Linked DNA regions of Homo sapiens. The protein of the gene in region 3 interacts with the protein of the main gene of each other region in a biochemical or structural test. Each region holds a gene or a part of one and is shown on either strand. Other genes may lie near its edges.

Region 1 (3,729 bases), on a different chromosome or scaffold from region 3:
CGCTTAATTTCCAATGTGGTTCTGACTCTCTTATTACTCTTTAAAATTTTATAGATTTATGACTACATAAATGTCCACATAATAAAATCTGAAAGATACCAAATATATAATAAAACAAAATTATGTTTGTCATGTTTTGGTAGCTAAGTATATATATGGTGAGGGAAATTATTAAAATATTATAAAATAAACATGTAGACTGGGGAAGACACCTATAACTTCTGTAAAATGAGAGAATGCATAAAGAATTTCACCACCAAAATGTTAAAAACATATATACCATAAAACCACCTTAACAAAATTTAAAAGCAAATGATAAATTAGAATTCAATAAAGAACCTTTAAAAACCAGTAAGAAAAACATGAATAACACAACAGATAAATGGACAAAAGGTAGACAGGCAATTATTCCATAAAAAAGGGAATATATTAAAATGGTATTCAATAGCATTTTAATCTCATGAATATTCACATTAATACAACAGAATTATTTTCTTAAATTGACAAAGAGAAAGTTAGTTATCAGTGCTCACTAGAACATGTTGGGTATAGATACATACATATATACCCATACTTTGTTGGAAGACACTTTGGTAGTATCTATCAATGGCTTCCAACAATTCATTTTTTTTTTTTCTTTTTGAGAAGGAGTTTTGCTCTTGTCCCCCAGGCTGGTATGCAATCTCGGCTCACTGCAACCTCTACCTCCCGGGTTCAAGCGATTCTCCTGCCTCACCCTCCTGAGTACCTGGGAATTACAGGCGCCTGCCACCATGCCCAGCTAATTTTTTTGTACTTTTAGTAGAGATGGGGTTTCACCATGTTGGCCAGGCTGGTATTGAACTCCTGACCTCAGGTGATCCACTCACCTTGGCCTCCCAAAGCACTGGGATTACAGGCGTGAGCCACTGCGCCCGGCCACCTTCCAACAATTCCACTCCTCTTTGTCCCACCAATTCTACTTTTGCTTAGTTATCTTAAGGAAATCATTGTGAAAATATTTGCAACTGTAAGGATGTTTAGCATAATACTGCTTTTCATATTTAAAATCTGTAAGTAGCCCAAACGGGCCAAAACAGGAAACTAGTTAATTCACTTATGATATAACCACAGGATGGAAAACCAGAAAGTCATTACAAACAGTTCATAGACTATTTAGTGAAATGAAAAAACTGTAACTGCAGATTTTTTAAAATTCTTTCGAATAGCTAATATATTTACATGGTTCAAAAATCTAAGCAATATGTGCACACAACTGAGAATTCTCACCATCACCAACTTCTATAAATAACCAATCTTTCTTACCAAAAAATAGTAACACTGTTCTGCACTGTTTTAAAACTTAATGATAAAAATTTGCCATAATAAATTTTCAGTTTGGAAGAAGGTTATACAATAGCAACATAGCAAATAAACTTATTTTTTAAAAACTGTGCAGAAAAAAAGACTGAAAGTTTATAAACCAAAAACTGATGAATTACGTTTTAATTTTCTTCTTTGTTGACTATTTTTTTTTTTTTGAAACTGAGTTTCACTCTTATTGCCCAGGCTGGAGTGCAGTGGCGCAATCTCGGCTCACTGCAACCTCCACCTCCCGGGTTCAAGCGATTCTCCTGCCTCAGCCTCCCAAGTAGCTGGGATTACAAGCGCCTGCCACCATGCCTGGCTAATTTTTCTATTTTTAATAGAGACGGGGTTTTGCCATGTTGGCCAGGCTGGTCTCGAACTCCTGACCTCAAGTGATCCACCCGCCTCAGTCTCCCAAAGTGCTAGGATTACAGGTATGAGCCACCGTGCCCGGCCATGACTATCTTTATTTTCCAAATTTGAGTACTGAGCATGAAATTCTTTAATCAGTTATTTAAATTAAAAGAAAATAAAACTAGAAGCTGATGTTTAAATTATGCTTACCTGCTTCAGGTTTGTTCAAGTCATATATGCGTAACAGTTTATCCTGTCCCCCGGTTAACAAATAATTACTATCCTGAAAACACAAAGTAAAATGTGAATAGATTAACCATTTTAATAGTTATTTCTCTTTCAAATTTCAACACCAAATAAAATCAAAATCTAGCTCACAGACATCACAAAGAGATGCCAAGACATAACCAATTACTTCTGAGAAGATACTGTGGAACAGCTGACCTCTCATAACTGCCAAGACTTGTAAGCTTTCCACTTCAAAAGCGTTACACTACACTACATATACATGAACTCTCCCATTCTCCCCTGATCCTACTCCTCTCCCTTGTGAGAGGCCCTTTTCTGATTATCTCAAATTTATCTTCTCCCTTCTATTAGTAGTTGGGGAAGGCTACTTGAGCTTTTCAGATGTTTTTTACATGTTGAAGGACTGGTACTCGTTCCACAGTATCTTAAAAGCTTGACAGGATTAACTATGAAACAAATTCATAGAGCTTAATACACAATCAAATCAAATATGAACCAAGAAATAACAAATATTCCACACAAAACATATCAATCAAATATACACACCAATCAAGTATAAAAGCATTATCACACTATGTACCAGCAACTTAACTCGCTAAAATAAATTCCATTTTCTGATACCTGCGTGAAATCCACAGTCTTGACAATGTGTTTATGAGCCAGGGTCATCAATTCATCTCCTGAGACAGCATCCCACACTTTGCTAAAAGTAAAAAAGAGAAAATTAGTAGGATAAATATTACCCAATATATTAAAAGGATAAATACAATTATAATATTGATGAGTACCAAATAAGTTAGATATGTGAAATGTTACATAAATGTATTATAAATCTCCTTTATCTCTAATATCCCTCACAGACTTCATTTGATAAAATATTTAAATAAGCTTAAGGGAAAAGAAATTTCTCTGTAAAAACTTTATAACCAATCTAATTTTCTTTGACAGTGGAAAAGATATGAACAATTTAAGCAAGTAAGATTCATGAACCAACCCATCCTCCTTACTTTTATTTTAGCTGACAGCCATAATATCCCTTTAGCAAGCCTGTCATACATTTTAACCAATTTTTAGTTTCACCATGCCAATTTTTTCTCTATTCTCCACTCAGATGCACAATAAAAAATAAAAATAAATAAAAAAACCAGAAATCCTTAAAAATGTTACAAGGGAATGAAAAGCCTTGGTACAGGCTAAGTAAAATTTTAAATTAAGATAGTGGAGAGACAATGTCCACTTCATCTCTTCTTCAAAGCTGACTTAAAATTTCAAACTCTAGTACAGTTAACTTCCCCCAAACTATCAGCCTTTGATTATATAATGCTAACACTGACTATTTTAATCTTTACATTGTTTTTTCTGTCCCACCCCACCCCAAAATACAAGTTGGTTATAGGTATACATACATTTATATGTGTATGTATATTCTGGGCGGGTAATAGTTGAGCAATACTTTACAAAATTACTCTAAAAGGGTTCCCCCAAATAAAAAAGCTTAAGGAAGGGGGAAAAAAAAGTTGATTTTAGATCAGAACAGGTCAGTGAAAAATAAACAAGAAAACTTTGCAGACAGGGAAAAGAATTGCTAAGAGTGAAAAAGCTATGTTCCATAGAGATTTCCATTTTAATGCAACTGCTATTTATTTTCAGGAACACAGTGGGCAATAAAATGGTAGAGGGAAAAAAATCAGAGAAAAGCAAGATGTATCTTTTCTTTTGCTTACCCCAATACATAATAAAATATATTAAATATATATCATTCTATACTTAGTGCTAAGG
Region 2 (3,729 bases), on a different chromosome or scaffold from region 3:
AGGGCGGAAGGCTACAGTGGATTCTGCCTCACCTCTGCTCAAAACTGGAACTCAGCATTCCCTGGAGGGGGAGGGTGTAGGGTTTCTGGTTCCCAGACAGGATCCTGGCCATACAAGAATCCTGTTTCAAAGGTAGTCTTTTAGGATACGCTGCAGGACCACTAAGAGTCCACCCAGCTTCTAAAGACTTGAGGGTTAGAAGGCTACATTTCGAAAAAACAAGTCAAATATCCCCCTCCAGCCCCCTTTGAAACTACCGAGAGGTCATCGACCACAGGCCTGAGACTGGGTCAGCAATCAGGCTCTTTGACCACCCCCTGCCACAAGAAATATCCAGGACATTAACTTACTCAAACCAGGAACCCTATCTCACCAGAAGAGAAACCCCAAGGTAACCTTAGGCATTCCTTTCAGATTCAGGTAATTACAAAAGCCAACCCTTAGCTCATAGTGTCAACATCTCCTCTACCAACCACCCAGCCCAAGGACCAGTAGCAGAAGCACATGGGCGATGTCTCCCCTCCACTGCTCTGACCCACCCCTCTGGCAGAAAATCTAACAAGCTACAAAATGCCAGAAAGACAGGGAGTAGGAGAAGGAGAAGCCAAGGGTCTCTATAAATCAGCCCTGAATGCACCCATTTGGCTGCCAAGAGCTTCTCACTGCCTTGCTAGCAGCCTGCCACTGTTCCCTGGCAAATTGAAACCACCCACGCAAACACTCAAAACCCCAATCTCCTTGCTAATAAGATACAACCAGTTAACACCGTGAAAAATGCACATCTCCAGCCTTCATTTCAAAAAAGAGCTCTGTACTAAATGCAATATGCTTTTAAAGGGGGTTTTACAGGGACCAATCTCAATGCAAAGACCAGTACCAGATGTCTGAGTTTTGGTTACAGGTTTATAATTAGACACAAAATTCACTCCACACTGGAGTTTTACTTTCAAGCTGGAAGCTAGCATTAGTTCTACTTGGGGGGAAAAAAGCAAAGTCAAGTCAACTTGGGAAAAAAAAAAAAAGGAGGAGGAGGCTAAGTATAATCATAAATTAAAAGTCGCGAATCAAAGGTGACTGGTAGTGTCTTTTAGGCATGAAGAGACTGGCTTACAAAAGTGACTACTGCTTCTACCACACACAGCGAAGATTGAATTACAGACACACTAAATCATGTCTCTTGCAGATGGTCTCAAGTAGTTACATAAGACAGGTAATCAGCAGCACAATTGAGAACAACCCCTAAATACATGCTTGAGAGAAAGTGGGTTTTTTTTTTTCCTTAAGAGCTCTACTGCCTGAATAGATCATTAAAAGTTACCATAATTCACCTTCCCCCCTCCCCCCAGTGAAAATGCAACTAGACCTACATGTCCATAAATAGGATGAAGCAATCGGTATCTGCTTGTTTTCAGGCAAGGTCTTGGGCTCAGAGGTTGGTGCTGGGGCCTTGGGAGGGAAACCCAATGCTGGGCTGTGGGCATTTACATGTACACTGGCCTCCCCTCCACCTGCCTTGTCCCCATTTAGATCTCAGCTTTACAAAGCATTTAACACCACTTTAAGTTAATGGTCTTTTTATTGGAAAAAAAAAAAAAAAGACTAGCATTTACAACTTGGAATGGACGTAAACTGTAATTTCTTTGAACAGCAATGTTGATGGTTGTGCTGAAGTCCACAGCCACAGCCTACTCTGCCGGCTCCAAGTCATGGTTCAGAAGGTTTTAAAAACAGAGAGTCCAAAGATGCTCCCTTGGTAAATGTTTCTTATTAAAAATTTGTGTGAACAGTGACAGCCTGACACCTGTTTCACTCTAGAACAATGCAGACAACGCTAAACCAACATACACGGGCATGCCACCAGGGTGTGTCATCGTCACCATGGGTCGGAGCACACGAAGTACAAGAGGACCATCCTACCAGTGGGGCCACGTCTCAACGGTTTATCCTTCACCCATTTTTCTGCACGTCATCCTGAGGTAAACCAATTTTAAATGTGTTTGTTTTCAGTAAACCAGCTATGACAATTTATACTAAACAAATTGAACTAGAACCCATTTGAATAGGTTTTGAATTTGTTTTTTCATTTTTCATTTTTAATACAAAGGCCTGACTGTGCTCAATCGTCAAGCTGCATGCATGAAAAACTGGCCAGCCCAAACAGTGTATTAATCATTAGCAAATGGAACTTTAAGGAGTCCTTATCATTAAGGTAGTACAAGTATTTATATTGTAAAACTGATGTGTAGCTTGATCTTTAGGGGACAGGACCACCAACCAATACATGCAGATTTTGTGTGTGTGGACAGAAGGTACTTTTGACATTCAGTTTTGCTATATAGAAACAGAATGAATAAATGAACTTTTTTCTTTTTTCTTTTTTTTGCAAGAGGTAAGTAAAAGATTCAATTTGATTCTTCTAGAGGGGGGAAAAAGGAGTTGAAAGTAGGTCTTCATTTTGCAGTCATCATCTGTACGAATTCTGAAAAGACAAATATAATAGTAACTTTTGGTTATCTTTGAAAACAGCTTTAATGAACACAACATCTTTACTGTACATAAAATAAAGTCAAAGGCTGTCTAGTGAAGCAGTTGGCTTGCTTACAGATCTAAAGGTAAGACTATGAAACACTGAGCTCAGAGAATTTAGTTTTACCTTCATAGTTGACTTGTCCGTCTCCATCAATATCTGCTTCTCTGATCATTTCATCTACTTCTTCATCTGTTAGTTTTTCTCCTAAGTTTGTCATGACGTGACGTAGTTCTGCTGCACTGATATAACCATTGCCATCCTGTGAACATTCAGCAATTGTTATTGCTAATGATGTAGTGTGGGGAAGTAGGTCTTTGACTTAGCTATGCCCTCTCAAGTTACTGCTAACTCTGCTGCCATAAACAATTCTCTGATCTCTAGTTCCCACCTCTAACCTACTAAATACATGCAAACAGCTAATGCAGAAAACAGGATTTGCAAAAGCTCACAACAATTCAAAGTAACAGTCAAGAAACATGGTCCAAAATTCCTATTTATTATGCCTACCCTCCCCTGATACGGTTACCATAAGGAGGATTTTTGAAAGTGAGATCAGAGGCTCAGGCAGTTAGATTTAAGTCTTCTGTCTATAACATTATTATAGCTTTTAGAAGTGAAAGCGGAAGAAGCCATACTTAAGTACCATCTGCTATGTAGATGCTGGATTACCTTGTCAAAGACTCGGAATGCCTCACGGATTTCTTCTTCACTATCTGTATCTTTCATTTTTCTAGCCATCATAGTCAAAAATTCGGGGAAGTCAATGGTGCCATTACCTCGAATTAAAAAACAAAAAGCTCATGTAAAGTAAGCACTCCATTAACGCTGCTCTGCAGTAATCATTTCAGAACCACTGTACGGAACGGTAAACATGTACTAGGACAAAGGGGCAGACTATCTTACTAGGTTCAATCATCTGCAGGTCTAAAACGTTCAAACACTTCACAGGGCAATTTCACATAATTTCAAACTCATCATCAGTGCCCAGGATAGTATTTAATTATACAAAGGAAACTGCACATCTGGATTCAAGCCCATGGAAGGGTCATGAAGGGCTGTACAGTTCAAGAGAAAAATAGCATACACCACTCCGCAGGCTGAATCTTTCCACTCCGAGGGAAGAAAGCGCCCCCGACTGCCATCCCTGAGTTAGGGAAATCACTCAGGTCTCACTCTGCCTTGGTTAGTGACAGCAGTAA
Region 3 (3,500 bases):
GCTTGAGCCCGGGAGGCAGAGGTTGCAGTGAACCAAGATTGCACCACTGCACTCCAGCCTGGGCAACAGTGCAAGACTCCGTTTCAAAAAAAAAAACTCATATATACAGTCCTCAATTTAACAATGCTTCTATTTAACAATGTTTAGACTTTCTGTGAAAGCAATCAGTAGACACTTACTTCTCCAAGTCCTCACATAACCATTCTGGTTTTCACCTTCAGTACAGTATTCAAGTAATTACATGAGATATTTAACACCTTATTATAAAATAGGCCAGGTGGCCAGGTGCAGTGGCTCACACCTATAATCCCAGAACTCTGGGGGGTCAAGGCAGGTAGATCACCTGAGATCAGGAGTTCAAGACCAGCCTGGCCAACACAGTCAAACCCCGTGTCCACTAAAAATACAAAAATTAGCCGGGTGTGGTGGCAGGCGCCTGTAGTTCCAGCTACTCAGGAGGCTGAAGCAGGAGAATTGCTCGAGCCCAGGAGGCAGAGGTTGCACTGAGCTGAGATCGCGCCACTGCACTCCAGCCTGGGTGACAGGAGTGAAACCCTGTCTCAAAAAAATTAATTAATTAAATAAATAAAATTTTAAAATAAAATAAAATAGGCCAGGTGCAGTGACTCACAACTGTAAACCCAATATTTCGGGTGGTGGAGGTAGGAGGATTGCTTGAGGGCAGGTGTTTGAGACCCCACCTCTACAAAAAATAATAACAATAATCTTTGTGTTAGATAATTTTGCCCAACTGTACCCTGACATAAGTGTTCTGAGCATGTTTAAAGGAGGCTAGGCTAAACTATGACGTTTGGTATCTTAGGTGTATTAAATGTAATTTCAATTTAACAATATTTTCAACTTAGAATGGTTTTATTTAGACATAATGCCATTGAAAGTTGAGGAGCATCTGTGTACTTTGGAAAGCAAAAGAAGACAAAAAATCAGGTGGCTTGATATAAAAGTCAAAAAGAAATTGTACAATAACCTGCTGCATTACTCCAAAGGGTCCATTTACATAAAATGTCACTGGTACCCCTTTTCCCCCAGGCTTGCTCCTAAAGTGAAACACACCTGTTCGTTCAATCTATATTCCCTGACACCTAAGGACCCAGTGACTTAATGAGGCAGAACACAAAGGAAGACAGCTCTTAACAACTCCACCTATCCCTTTGTGATGCTAAATAACCATAGGGCTTATCTTTTCAGCATCCTAAATGGCCTTCCGGCCTTGATGTAATCTTGCAGGAACCATTCTTTTATAAACTGGAGACCGTAACAGAGGCTTCCACCCTTGTCTTAGAATTAACCTGATAGACAGTTAGACTGTCATAACAGGCTGGGTGCAGTGGCTCATACCTGTAATCCCAGCACTTTGGGAGGCCAAGGCAAGAGGACCACTTGAGGCCACGAGTTCAATACCAGCCTGGCCAACATAGTGGGACCCCCCCCGCCCCCCGTACAAAAAATAAGAAAATTAGACATGATGGCATGCAGCTGTGGGCTCAGCTACTCAGGAAGGTGAGGTGGGAGGATCACTTGAGCCCAGGAGTTGAAGGCTGCAGTGAGCTATGATCATACCACTTACATACCAGCCTGGGTGGCAGAGTGAGACCCTATCTCCAAAGAACAGAAAACAAACCAAGACTCTGATAACAGAACCACCAGTAAAATCAAAGTAACATCCACTGCTGACCTAATCGGATTAACAAAAAAAAGGGAGGGAGAGGAGGGCATTCTCTTCCTCCCCAAACTCAGGCTACTACTCTAGGAGAACATAGGAAACAACACTATAGTAGTCCCCACCATCAGAGGGGGATAAGATCCAAGACCCCCCAGTGGATGCCTGAAACCTCGCATAGTACAGAACCCTATATAAATTATGCACAACTTTCTTTTTCCTTCTTCACAATTTCACAAATAGAAGATTAGTTCTTACCATAGACGTTAGCAGCCTCAGCATACAAATTTTTTTATTTCCATATTAAATTGAGATCTTTCACCTTTTCAGTAAAAGGAAACACTTTACAGCTTCTCTTTACAATATCCAAATTGCCAGCATCTTTTGCTTTGGGGCCATTATTAAATATAAGGGTGACATGAACACAAGCACTGCAAAACCATGTAATTTAAGACTTATGAACTGATTATTTCTTTTTTTTTTTTTTTTTGAAACGGAGTCTCAGTCACCCAGGCTGGAGTGCAGTGGCACAATTTTGGCTCATTGCAACCTCCACCTCCTGGGTTCAAGCAATTCTCCTGCTTCAGCCTTCCAAGTAGTTGGGATTACAGGCGCACACCACCATGCCCGGCTAATTTGTATATTTTTTTTAGTAGAGACAGGGTTTTCACCGTATTGGCCAGCCTGGTCTCAAACTGCAGACCTCAGGTGATCCTCAGGTCCACCTCAGCCTCCCAAACTGCTAGGATTACAGGCCTGAGCCACCATGCCCAGCCATGAATTGACTATTTCTTATGAATTTTCCACTTAATAGTTTCAGATCGCAGCTGACCATTGGTAAGTGAAACTACTACCGCTGATAAGGAGGGACTAAGATACCCACACTGATTGTATTTACACAGCTTTCAAGATACAAAGGTTCTGCCAGGTGTGGTGGTTCATGTCTGTAATCCCAGCACTTTGGGAGGCCAACGCAGGTAGATTGCTTGAGCCCAGGAATTCAAGACCAGCCTGGGCACCATGGTGAAATCCAGTATCTACAGAAAATACAAAAAATTAGCAGGGCATGGTGGTGTGCACCTGTAGTCCCAGCTACTTGGGAAGCTGAGGTGGGAGGATCACTTGAGTCCAGGAGGTTGAGGCTGCAGTGAGCCGTGATCGAGCCTGCACTCCAGCCTGGGTGACAGAGCGAGACCCTGTCTCAAGGAAAATAAAAAAGATACAAAGGTTCTGATGAGTTTTCTTTAAAACATACCAGGAAGGCAATGCCAAAACTGAGTATGCCACACCAGGGACTGCTGGTCTAATACTACCTGAGCCAGGCTGAGTCTTCCCCACAGCTTTTTAAGCAAGACAGGACAACTGGAGAAAATGTGTCAACAAGTTACTATGAGAGATTAGAGGCAAGCGGATCTGGAGTCAGACACTTGAGTGAAACTGTGCATGACTTTAGGTAGATCACAACTTCTCTAAACCTGTTTTCTCATCTGAAAATAAGTAGACAGACCATGAGGATTAAGTGAAGTGACGCATGTAATACTCCCCCCACCCACCCATGCTTGCTATCTGGGAGCTATTGCTATTGGAAAGCCATGCAGAGAAGTGAGTGAAAAACCAAAGTGAGGGCAGCAAAACTCCAGGACTGTAGACAGAAATCCAGTCCCAAAACCTATAAAACTACTAGAAGAAAACACTGGGGAAGTGCTCCAGGACACTCATCTTGGGCACAGGTTTTTTGGGCACAGGGTTTTTACGTAAGACCTCAAAAGCACAGGCAACTAAAGCAAAAACAGACAACTGGGATTTCATCAAGCTAAAA

Evidence for each region.
Region 1: of the proteins of CHEK2 (region 3) and STRAP, one has a biochemical effect on the other in vitro, tested with the Homo sapiens proteins (one study listed by BioGRID and IntAct).
Region 2: the proteins of CHEK2 (region 3) and CALM1 form a complex in vitro, tested with the Homo sapiens proteins (one study listed by BioGRID).

Annotation. Positions count from the first base shown.
Region 1 is NC_000012.12:15,888,852-15,892,580, reverse strand, and holds part of STRAP (serine-threonine kinase receptor-associated protein), read right to left. Parts: intron 2,654-3,729; coding exon 2,572-2,653; intron 1,985-2,571; coding exon 1,912-1,984; intron 1-1,911. UniProt on the Homo sapiens protein: The SMN complex catalyzes the assembly of small nuclear ribonucleoproteins (snRNPs), the building blocks of the spliceosome, and thereby plays an important role in the splicing of cellular pre-mRNAs.
Region 2 is NC_000014.9:90,403,439-90,407,167, reverse strand, and holds part of CALM1 (calmodulin-1), read right to left. Parts: intron 3,307-3,729; coding exon 3,200-3,306; intron 2,790-3,199; coding exon 2,654-2,789; intron 2,480-2,653; coding exon 2,451-2,479; 3' UTR 1-2,450. UniProt on the Homo sapiens protein: Calmodulin acts as part of a calcium signal transduction pathway by mediating the control of a large number of enzymes, ion channels, aquaporins and other proteins through calcium-binding. Calcium-binding is required for the activation of calmodulin.
Region 3 is NC_000022.11:28,735,321-28,738,820, forward strand, and holds part of CHEK2 (serine/threonine-protein kinase Chk2), read right to left. Parts: exon of another isoform or gene 1,964-3,500; coding exon of another isoform or gene 1,940-1,963; intron 1-1,939. UniProt on the Homo sapiens protein: Serine/threonine-protein kinase which is required for checkpoint-mediated cell cycle arrest, activation of DNA repair and apoptosis in response to the presence of DNA double-strand breaks.